Linked DNA regions of Homo sapiens: region 1 is linked to region 2. The links come from fine-mapping of genetic effects on gene expression. A gene starts in region 2. The other region holds a variant in brackets. All regions are shown on one strand. Distances are from middle to middle. Region 1 overlaps CLCA4-AS1 (CLCA4 antisense RNA 1). Region 2 holds the start of CLCA4-AS1 (CLCA4 antisense RNA 1).

Region 1 (5,381 bases), 33 kb before region 2:
CTATACAAATACCTGGAAATTAGATAATATGTTCCTGAATGTCCACTGGGTCAATAAAGACATTAAGAAGAAAATTTAAAAATTTGTTGAAACAAAGGAAAATGGAAATATAACATACAAAATCCTATGGGATATAGCAAAAGCAGTACTAAGAAGAAAGTTTATAGCAATAAGCACCTACATCGGAAAAGCAGAAAAACTGCAAATTAGCAACCTAATGATGTAGATTAAAGAATTAGAAAGAAAAGAGTAAATCAAACCCAAAATTAGTAGAAGAAAAGAAATAATATCAGAGAAGAAATAAATGAAATTGAAATAAAAAATACAAAAGATCAAAGCAAAGTTTTTCTTACGAACAGATAAAGTGACAAATCTTTAGCCTGACTAAGAAAAAAAGAAAGAAGAGCTAGATAAGTAAAATCACAGATAAAAAAGGAGACATTACACTATTACACTTGATACCACATAAATTCAAAGGATAATTAGTGAATACTCTGAGCTAATATATATGACAATACATTGGAAAACCCAGAAGAAATAGATACACTCTTAGACATATACAACCTGCTAAGATTGATCCTGAAGAAATCCCAAACCAGAATAGACCAATAACAAGTAATGAGATTGAAGCCATAATAAAGTCTCCCAGGATAGAAAAGCTCAGGGCTTGTTAGCTTCACTGCTGAATTCTACCTAACATTTAAAGAACTAATACCAATCCTACTCAAACTACTCCAAAAAGTAGAAGAGGAGGGAATACTTCTAAACTCATTCTGTGAGGCCAGTATTACCCTGATACCAAAACCAGACAAAGACACACCAAAAAAAACTACAGGCCAATATCCCTGATGAACATTGATGCAAATATTATCCTCAATAAAACACTAGCAAACCAAATTCAACAACACATTAATAAGATCATTAATCATGACAAAGTGGGATACATCCCAGGGATGCAAAGATGATTCAACATATGCAAATCAATCAGTGGGATATATCATATCAACAGAATGAAGGATAAAAACCATATGATCATTTCAATTGATACTGAAAAAAACACTTGATAAAATTCAACATCCCTTCATGTTAAAAAAAAAAACTTCAAAAACTAGGTATAAATGACATACCTCAACACAATAAAAGCCATATACGACAGACTACAGCTAGTATCATACTGAACAATGAAAAAGTGAAAGCCTTTCCTCCAAGAGCTGAAACAAGATAAGGATGCCCATTTTCATCACTATTATTCAACATAGTACTAGAAGTCCTAGCTAGAGCAATCAGATGAGAGAAAGAAATAAAGAGCATGCAAATTGGAAAGGAAGAAGTCAAATTATCCTTGTTTGCAGATGATATGATCTTATACTTGGAAAAACCTAAAGACTTCACCAAGAAAACTATTAGAACTGACAAACAAATTCAGTGAAGTTGCAGGATACAAAAATCAACATACAAAAATTAGTAGCATTTCTATCTGCCAACAGCTAACAATCTGACAAATAAATCATGAAAGTAACTCCATTTACAATAGCTACAAATAAAATAAAATACCTAGGAATAAACTTAACCAAAGAAGTGAAATATTTCTACAATGAAAACTGTAAAACATTGATGTAGGAAGTTGAAGGTAATACAAAAAAAATGGAAAGATATTCCATGTTCAAGAATTGGAAGAATCAATATTCTTAAACTGTCCATACTACCAAAAGCAATCTACAGATTCAGTGCAATCACTATCAAAATATCAACAACATTCTTCACAGAAATAGAAAAAAAATCCTAAAATTTATATGAAACCACAAAAGACCCAGAATACTCACGGTAATCCTGAGCAAAAAGTACAAAATTGGAAGAATCACATTACCTGACTTCAAATGTACTACAGAGCTACAGTACCCAAAATAACATGGTACTGGCATAACAACAGACATGTAGACCAACAAAATGGAACAGTGAATCCACAAATAAATCCATACATCTACAGTGAACTATTTTTTGACAAAAATACCAAGAACATACATTTAGGAAAGGGCAGTCTTCAATAAATGGTGCTGGGAAAACTGGATATCTATACAATGAAACTAGACCCCTAACTCTTACCATAGACGAAACCAAATAAAAATGTATTAAAGACTTATATCTAATACCCCAAACTATGAAACTACTGAAAGAAAACATTGTGCAAATTCTCCAGGACATTAGACTGAGCAAAGATTTCTTGAGTAATACCCCACAAGCTCAGGCAACCAAAGCAAACATGGACAAATGGTATCAAACCAAGTTAAAAAGCTTCTGCACAGCAAAGGAAACAATCAACAAAGTGAAGGACAACCCACTGAATAGGAAAAAATATTTGCAAATTATCCATCTAACAAGAAATTAATAACCAGAATGCATAAGGAGCCCAAACAACTCAACAGGAAAAAATATAATAATCCAACCTAAAAACTGTGCAAAAGATCTCAATAGACATTTCTCAAAAGAAGACATACAAATGGCAAGCAGGTATATGAAAAGGTACTCAACATCACTGATCATCAGAAAAATGCAAGTCAAAACTACAATGAGATAGCATCTTACCCCAGCTAAAGTGGCTTTTACCCAAAAC[G/A]TAGGCAATAACAAATACTGACAATGATGTGGAGAAAAGAGAACTTCCGTACACTGTTGGTGGGAATGTAAATTAGTACAACCGCTATGGGAAAAAGTTTGGATATTCCTCAAAAAACTAAAAATAGAACTACCGTATGATCCAGAATCCCACTGCTAGGTATAAACCCAAAAGAAAGGAATCAGTACATTGAAGAGATATCTGCACTTCCAATTTTACTGCAGCACTATTCACAATAACCAATATTTGGAAGCAATCTAAGTGTCCATTAACAAATGAATGGATAGAGAAAATATGGTAACTATACATAATAGAGCACTATTCAGCCAAAACAAGAAGGAGATCCTGTCATTTGCAACAACTTAGATGAAACTGGAGGTCATTATGTTATGTGAAATAGCACAGAAAGACAAATTTTGCATGTTCTCACTTATTTGTGGGAGCTAAAAAATTTTTAAAACAATTGAACTCATAGAGATATAGAGTAGAATGATGGTTACCAGTATCTGGGAAGGGTACTTTGCAGGGTTGGGGAGTGGGGATGGTGAATGTGTACAAAAATATAGAAAACCCCATTGTCTCAGCCCAAAATCTCCTTAAGCTGATAAGCACGTTCAGCAAAGTCTCAGGATACAAAATCAATGTGCAAAAATCACAAGCATTCTTATACACCAATAACAGACAAACAGAGAGCCAAATCATGAGTGAACTCCCATTCACAATTGCTTCAAAGAGAATAAAATACCTAGGAATCCATCTTACAAGGGATGTGAAGGACCTCTTCAAGGAGAACTATAAACCACTGCTCAATGAAATAAAAGAGGATACAAACAAATGGAAGAACATTACATGCTCATGGGTAGGAAGAATCAATATCGTGAAAATGGCCATACTGCCCAAGGTAATCTATAGATTCAATGCCATCCCCATCAAGCTACCAATGACTTTCTTCACAGAATTGGAAAAAACTACTTTAAAGTTCATATGGAACCAAAAAAGAGCCCGCATCACCAAGTCAATCATAAGCCAAAAGAACAAAGCTGGAGGCATCATGCTACCTGACTTCAAACTATACTACAAGGCTACAGTAACCAAAACAGCATGGTACTGGTACCAAAACAGAGATATAGATCAATGGAACAGAACAGAGCCCTCAGAAATAACGCCACATATCTACAACTATCTGATCTTTGACAAACCTGAGAAAAACAAGAAATGGGGAAAGGATTCCCTATTTAATAAATGGTGCTGGGAAAACTGGCTAGCCATATGTAGAAAGCTGAAACTGGATCCCTTCCTTACACCTTATACAAAAATCAATTCAAGATGGATTAAAGAACGTTAGACCTAAAACCACAAAAACCCTAGAAGAAAACCTAGGCATTACCATTCAGGACATAGGCATGGGCAAGGACTTCATGTCTAAAACACCAAAAGCAATGGCAACAAAAGCCAAAATTGACAAATGGGATCTAATTAAACTCAAGAGCTTCTGGCACAGCAAAAGAAACTACCATCAGAGTGAACAGGCAACCTACAAAATGGGAGAAAATGTTTGCAATCTACACATCTGACAAAGGGCTAATATCCAGAATCTACAATGAACTCAAACAAATTTACAAGAAAAAAAAAACCCCATCAAAAAGTGGGCAAAGGATATGAACAGACACTTCTCAAAAGAAGACATTTATGCAGCCAACAGACACATGAAAAAATGCTCATCATCACTGGCCATCAGAGAAATGCAAATCAAAACCACAATGAGATACCATCTCACACCAGTTAGAATGGCAATCATTAAAAAGTCAGGAAACAACAGGTGCTGGAGAGGATGTGGAGAAATAGGAACACTTTTACACTGTTGGTGGGACTGTAAACTAGTTCAACCATTGTGGGAGTCAGTGTGGTGATTCCTCAGGGATCTAGAACTAGAAATACCATTTGACCCAGCCATCCCATTACTGGGTATATACCCAAAGGACTATAAATCATGCTGCTATAAAGACACATGCACACGTATGTTTATTGCAGCACTATTCAAGATAGCAAAGACTAGGAACCAACCCAAATGTCCAACAATGATAGACTGAATTAAGAAAATGTGGCACATATACACCATGGAATACTATGCAGCCATAAAAAATGATGAGTTCATGTCCTTTGTAGGGACATGGATGAAATTGGAAATCATCATTCTCAGTAAACTGTCGCAAGGACAAAAAACCAAACACCGCATGTTCTCACTCATAGGTGGGAATTGAACAATGAGAACACATGGACACAGGAAGGGGAACATCACACTCTGGGGACTGTTGTGGGGTGGGGGGAGGGGAGAGGGATAGCATTAGGAGATATACCTAATGTTAAATGACAAGTTAATGGGTGCAGCACACCAGCATGGCACATGTATACATATGTAACTAACCGGCACATTGTGCATATCTACCCTAAAACTTAAAGTATAATAATAATAATAATAAATGAATAAGAACTGGTATTTGGTATCACAACAGGGTGACTATGGTCAACAATACCTTATTGTACATTTAAAAATAACTAAAACAGTATAATTGGATTGTTTTTAACACAAAGGAAAAATGCTTGAGGTGATGAATACCCCATTTACCTTGACGTGATTATTACACATTGAAGCCTGTGTCACAATATCCCATGTGCCCCATAAATATATATACCTACTATGTAGCCACAAAAATTAAAAATGAAAAAATATAAAAATAAGTTTAAAAAGGTAATATTGGGGGTAATAAAC
Region 2 (5,381 bases):
AATTTGTTTTTAAAAAGAGGATGAAAATGAAAAATAGGAAACAGTTTCAGAGAAGAAATTGCCAGGATAGACCAATTGGTGGTGGGAAATAAGAGGAAATAATCAAAGGGGACTCAGATTTCTGGCTTAGGTGATTTGGTGTGTATGATTCAATTTATCAATGTAGGAAACCCAAGAAAAGAAGAATTTTCAGGAAAAGCAAACTATAACAGACTTGCCACTGGAAATATTGAATCTATGGATAAATAGTTGGAAATTTAGGCTGGGGGTGATGGTGTCACAAAAGAGCTTAGCACTGTAAACATCTTGATTTGATTACTTTTTTCACTTACTAAATCATTTGGGAATTCACTATGTTGCCTGTGTAAACCATAAAATATATAAAAATAAATAGGAAACGGACACTGCCCTTAAGGGACTGATATCTGGTAAGAGAAGTAGAATCAGTCTGTAGGCAAAGGGTAGAGACTGATGGAGCAAGTTCTAGAGGGTGACAAATTAGTTCTCAACCTTGGTCACACATTAAGAACACCTAGAGGAACTCCTAAAACATCCCAATGCCCAGTCCACACTCTGGGACTGGATCCAGGCATCAGTGGTTGCTTAAACTCTCCAGGTGATGCTGATGTGCAGCCAAGATTAAGGGAGCAGTGGCTCTACTCAGAACACCTGAGACACCTATTCCTTTGAAACATTTGGCAATGATGCAGGAAAGAGTGTGGAGAGAACAGGAGGTGGAAATAAGGAAATTTGGTTGAAGAGGCTTCTGCCAAACAGAGTGATGATTTATATTTTCTCTGTAAAGAAAGCGAATCAGCTGGGTGCGGTGGCTCACACCTGTCATCCCAGCACTTTGGGAGGCTGTGGCAGGCGGATCACTTGAGGCCAGGAGTTCGAGACCAGCCTGGCCCACATGGTGAAACTCTGTCTCTACTAAAGATATAAAAAATTAGCCGGGCGTGGTGATGCATGCTTGTAATCCCAGCTACTTGGAAGGCTGAGGCAGGAGAATCCTTGAACCCAGGAGGCAGAGGTTGCAGTGAGCTGAGATCACACCATTGCACTCCAGCCTGGGTGACACAGCAAAACTCTGTCTCAAAAAAAAAAGTGTCAAAGGCTAAGAATAAGGATATATGAAAATAAGGTAAGTCTTTTATGGAGAATGGGGAAACAGGATTACAGCTACAGAGGGTGCAAAAGAAAGAAGTAACATTGTTGTTTTCCCAAGACTGGGAAGATTGAAACACTTGAGGATGAGGATTCAGGGACACCACTGTGTCCACCATTAAAGAATTTCCCCTTTAATGGTGGACACGGTGGTGTGATCCTTTTGTAGAGACGAGCATAGGTTATGGCAAATATACCTACTTTAAAAACAGTGCTCTGGGAAGAGAGTAAGTGCTTTTCCACATAAAGATCTAAAATAGACAATAAATGAGAAATAGGGTTTTTTATTATATATTCATTTTTCCATATTTCTGGAAAATGAAACAGACATGGAGTATTTCAAAGCTGGGAGAGATCATTATATTGGAGTTACCTTAGAAAGAGGGGGCTGTTTCTGCCACCACAACAAAGAATGAAACAACACAAATATTTACGTTTTCTTCTTGTCCTCATAATGCTTTTACTGCACTCGTCTTTCAACCTTTAACATCTACTGCATCTGTGACTGTTGTTTCAGTAAAACACGGAAGCTTGAATGTAAGCTCATTTCATTGCCTGCTGCACAACCACACAAAACAGCATTTTCTTATTCTTGAAATATGATAGCAACGTCTCCTTCCATGCTTGTACCTGTTTTAATTCCTTTCAAGCAGAGGCTGTATCGTGAAAGATGCTTAAGAAGTTACTTGGAACGACAGGATTTGGAACGGATGTCACATCATATTCTCATTTGTTATTAAAATTAGTCACGCTTAATTGTTAAGGACTATCCTGTGTCGCTCGCCATCTTTGTGTCCTCCACCTGGCACTTTGCTTTCACACAGTAGGCACATAGCGTTGAGGTCCCGGAAGGTTGTCAAGTAACCGGCCAGGAGCTTGAGGGCAGGACATTGTCTCCGACACTTGATTCAGTGCCTGGCACACAGGAGGTATTCAATTATGCTGAATGAATGAGCAACCGGCTCGGTGGGGGACAGTAAACCCAACCCTATTCCGCGAACGTTTGCTGAGCGGCATCCAGGCCTCAGGGACCAAGTGTGTCGCGCGGTGCCATACCGTGACCGGGACCTGTTATTTCTAATGTCCAGATATTGTAATTCTATGCTGTAACTCCTATATTTCCTCTTAAAACAAAAAGAGAAATGTGGGTCGTGTTCGCTCTGGGTTCTCGTTAAGTGCAAGCATACAGAGGCGCCGAGACCCCGCGGCTCGCCCTCGCCGCTTCCTCCACAGGAGCCGGGCGGAGCTCCCGGCGCGCCCCGGGGCTGCGCCGCCGCAATCCTCAAGGGGTCGCTGTTCCCGCGATAACCTCGAGAAAGGCTCCGCCCCGCGGCCCGCGCTTGTTTTTCCCTTGGGACCCGGGTCCACACGGCGGGGTCGCCCGTCCATCTCCGGCTCGCCCGCGGGGCCCATCGTCGACGTTAGCGGCCGTTCTCCGAGCCGACTGACCCATCCTTGGCGCTGCCGCCGCGCGCTTGTTCTCCTCCCTCGCCCCGCCTTCATCCTCCCCGTTCACGGAAACGACAGCTGCGGCTGCGGGGCTGGCGCCGCCTCCCTCCACCTACCACGTCTGCCCTCGCCGCTCTAGCCCTGCGCCCCAGCCCGGCCGCGGCACCTCCGCCTCGCCGCCGCTAGGTCGGCCGGCTCCGCCCGGCTGCCGCCTAGGATGAATATCATGGACTTCAACGTGAAGAAGCTGGCGGCCGACGCAGGCACCTTCCTCAGTCGCGCCGTGCAGGTACCCTGGTGCTGGGGGGAAAAGGGGTGGCGGCGCCCGGGAAGGTTGAGGGAGGGGACCGCAGCTCGACGCGGCGCCCCCGGGCCTCGCCGACCACCCAGCGGGCCTGCTGCAGCCAGAGGCCTGGGAGATGGGCGCGGCCTGGTCCCCTCCCCGGGCCCGGCGGCGGATTTCTGCCCCGCTCCTGCCCAACCGCCGCTCCCTGGGAAGCGAGGCGGGGTGGGGACGGGGCCGGGAGCTTCCTCCCACCCCTGGGGAACACTAAGGCTGCACTGTCCGCCTTTCTGATACCACGACGTCAGTGCTCCTGTGGCCTCCACCCCGGGGCTGGCGGAGGCTTGCGAGTCCTTTGCGGTAACCGAGACACAGGCCATTCTTGCACTACCCCCCACCCTTTCCTTTCGTCTCTCACCCTCCCCTCGGAGTCCAAGAAGGGAGTTTCCTTTTCCTGTCCTTCAACCCAGAGAGCTGCCAACACAGTTCCCTCCGGCCCTCTTTCTCCCTGAAAGGACTGTCCTGGGCTTGGCAGCCCGCGGGGGAAATGGAGATCGCCAGTTGGCGTTGAGACTTTGCCAAGACCACAAGAAACCTAGGGTTGGGGGGTTTTCACTCTTTTTCAAAATGGGAAGCACCAGCTGTAGATCAAGGAGAGATGCGGGGATATTGTTATGGCTGTAGTCACAGTAGTATGTTTTAAATATACTTTAAGGGGAAAAGTTGACTACCTCTCGATATTCTACAATCAAGGAAGTGTCAGTACTAAGGAACTTGGGCCGTTTCCCACAGTCATCACCCATGTTATGCCAACTCAGTAAATCTGTGAACAGATGTAAATTTCACAACATGAATTATAAACAATCTGGTGTTTACGGTCACGGTAGCAACAACATTCTCTTTTGTAAAAAGAAAACAAAAATAATTTTCTAATATGCATACCAAATTGGTGCTGAAATGTAAATCTGTTCTGTGGCTTTACTACTTTCCTTGCCTTTGCCCCAATTTTGTTGGCACAGTTGATCCTACATTGCACTATCCCTGGCAAAAGAGTAGTAGAGCTAGAGCAAGGTAATAGCTGCCTATATTATGAAAAACCTGTCAAGCACTTTGTAATGCATTTGACATATTATCTCCAGTCTTTTCCATAACTTTGCCAGATAGATGTTATTAACCCCTTTTATATATGTGAGGAAGCAGCCTTACTGAGGTTAAGAAACTTGCACAACTAGTAAATAACCAGGTGCTGTCTGACCTAGTACTCCCAGCTGCTTTTTCTTCCGGGATAAGCATTCCAGATTTAAGATAGCTAGAATAATAGAATGCTGTGGCCTAGAGAGACCTTAAAAATCATCTGGTTCAATCTGAGCATTTCCATATCAACAAGCAAGTAACACTTTAGAGATGGTAAATTCCTTCTAGCTTTTGATTTCTAAGTTCTAAAATCTGCATGGTGAGTAATAAGCTAGCTGCCTTAACCCTTTTCTTCCCTTCCTTCCCTAAAATATGATATATTGTAGACGTTGAGCCTTTATAGTTAAAATAATGTTTTGATTTAAATTCACTAGCTTCTAATAGTTCAAAGACAAGGTGCAAGAAGAATGAGTGATTGAGGGTGTGAAATGAATTTTGATGTGTGAGACACTTGTACACTTTTAACATTGACTGCAATAGAGGACTAGAGCCCTTGGTATTTTTGTTTGTCCTAGTGCTCATTACCTATAATTCTAGATGCTTATGAGGATTTGACACTGTATAATGCTACTCTTTTAAATACAGTTAAATATGTTTCAGACGTATAACTCACACCCCTTAAAGAGGACACATTTACTAGAATTTAGTCTGATTTAAATTGTGGATAGACTCAATTTAAAAAATTAAATCTAGCAAAGCTCTCAAAATGTGTACTTCCCAAAGAATTTTAATTCCTTGTTTCAAATTCTTTAGGAAAAAGTTTTAAATTTTATGCTAATCTGTTAGCCATCAAATAATTTTCTTTTCAGTTTTAAATATTTAAGTGTCTACTGCATGTCTGATGTCTGCTTGTGGCTACTGTGGACACTGGTGATACAGCAGTGAATAAAATCAGCAAAGTGTCTGCCCTCCTGAAGCTTACATTGTAGCGGAAGATAAGCTTGTAAATACATCAGGTGGTGATAAAAATCATGGCCAGAAGAATAGAATAACGCAGAGATGGTGGTTGTTAATATCTTTATTAGTATTTTCTAACATTAGTATCGTGTATAGATAGGATGGTCAGGGCAAGTCTTTCTAATAGGATGAAATTCAAGAGACCTCAAGGAAGTGACAGACCTAGTTTTTTTTGGAATAAAAGTATTTCAGGCAGCAGGAAGAAGTACAAAGACTGAAGTTTCAGGGGCATTAAGGAGACCAATGAAGGAGCTGTGGCCATAATACACGTAAAAGGCGATTGTAACTTAGATTACAGTGGTAGCAGTGAAGGTTCCAAATTATCCAGTAT

The links. PIP is the estimated chance that this variant, and not a neighbour inherited with it, causes the effect.
Region 1: its variant is the best candidate, but not a certain one, in a credible set for the expression of CLCA4-AS1 in visceral fat (GTEx, PIP 0.89).

Annotation. Positions count from the first base shown.
Region 1 is chr1:86,668,941-86,674,321 of GRCh38, forward strand. The region is part of intron 4 of CLCA4-AS1 (CLCA4 antisense RNA 1); the gene reads right to left. Among named protein-coding and RNA genes, the nearest start is that of CLCA4-AS1, 33 kb to the right of the region's middle. The variant G/A (reference allele first, on the strand shown) is at 2,612.
Region 2 is chr1:86,702,067-86,707,447 of GRCh38, forward strand. It overlaps CLCA4-AS1 (CLCA4 antisense RNA 1), which reads right to left and starts at 2,427. Exons shown (of 5, transcript NR_135837.1): 1 at 1,541-2,427. It overlaps SH3GLB1 (SH3 domain containing GRB2 like, endophilin B1), which reads left to right and starts at 2,510. Exons shown (of 9, transcript NM_016009.5): 1 at 2,510-2,905. The coding sequence starts at 2,834. RefSeq lists enhancers at 1,714-1,783, 2,348-2,849 and a silencer at 2,674-3,163.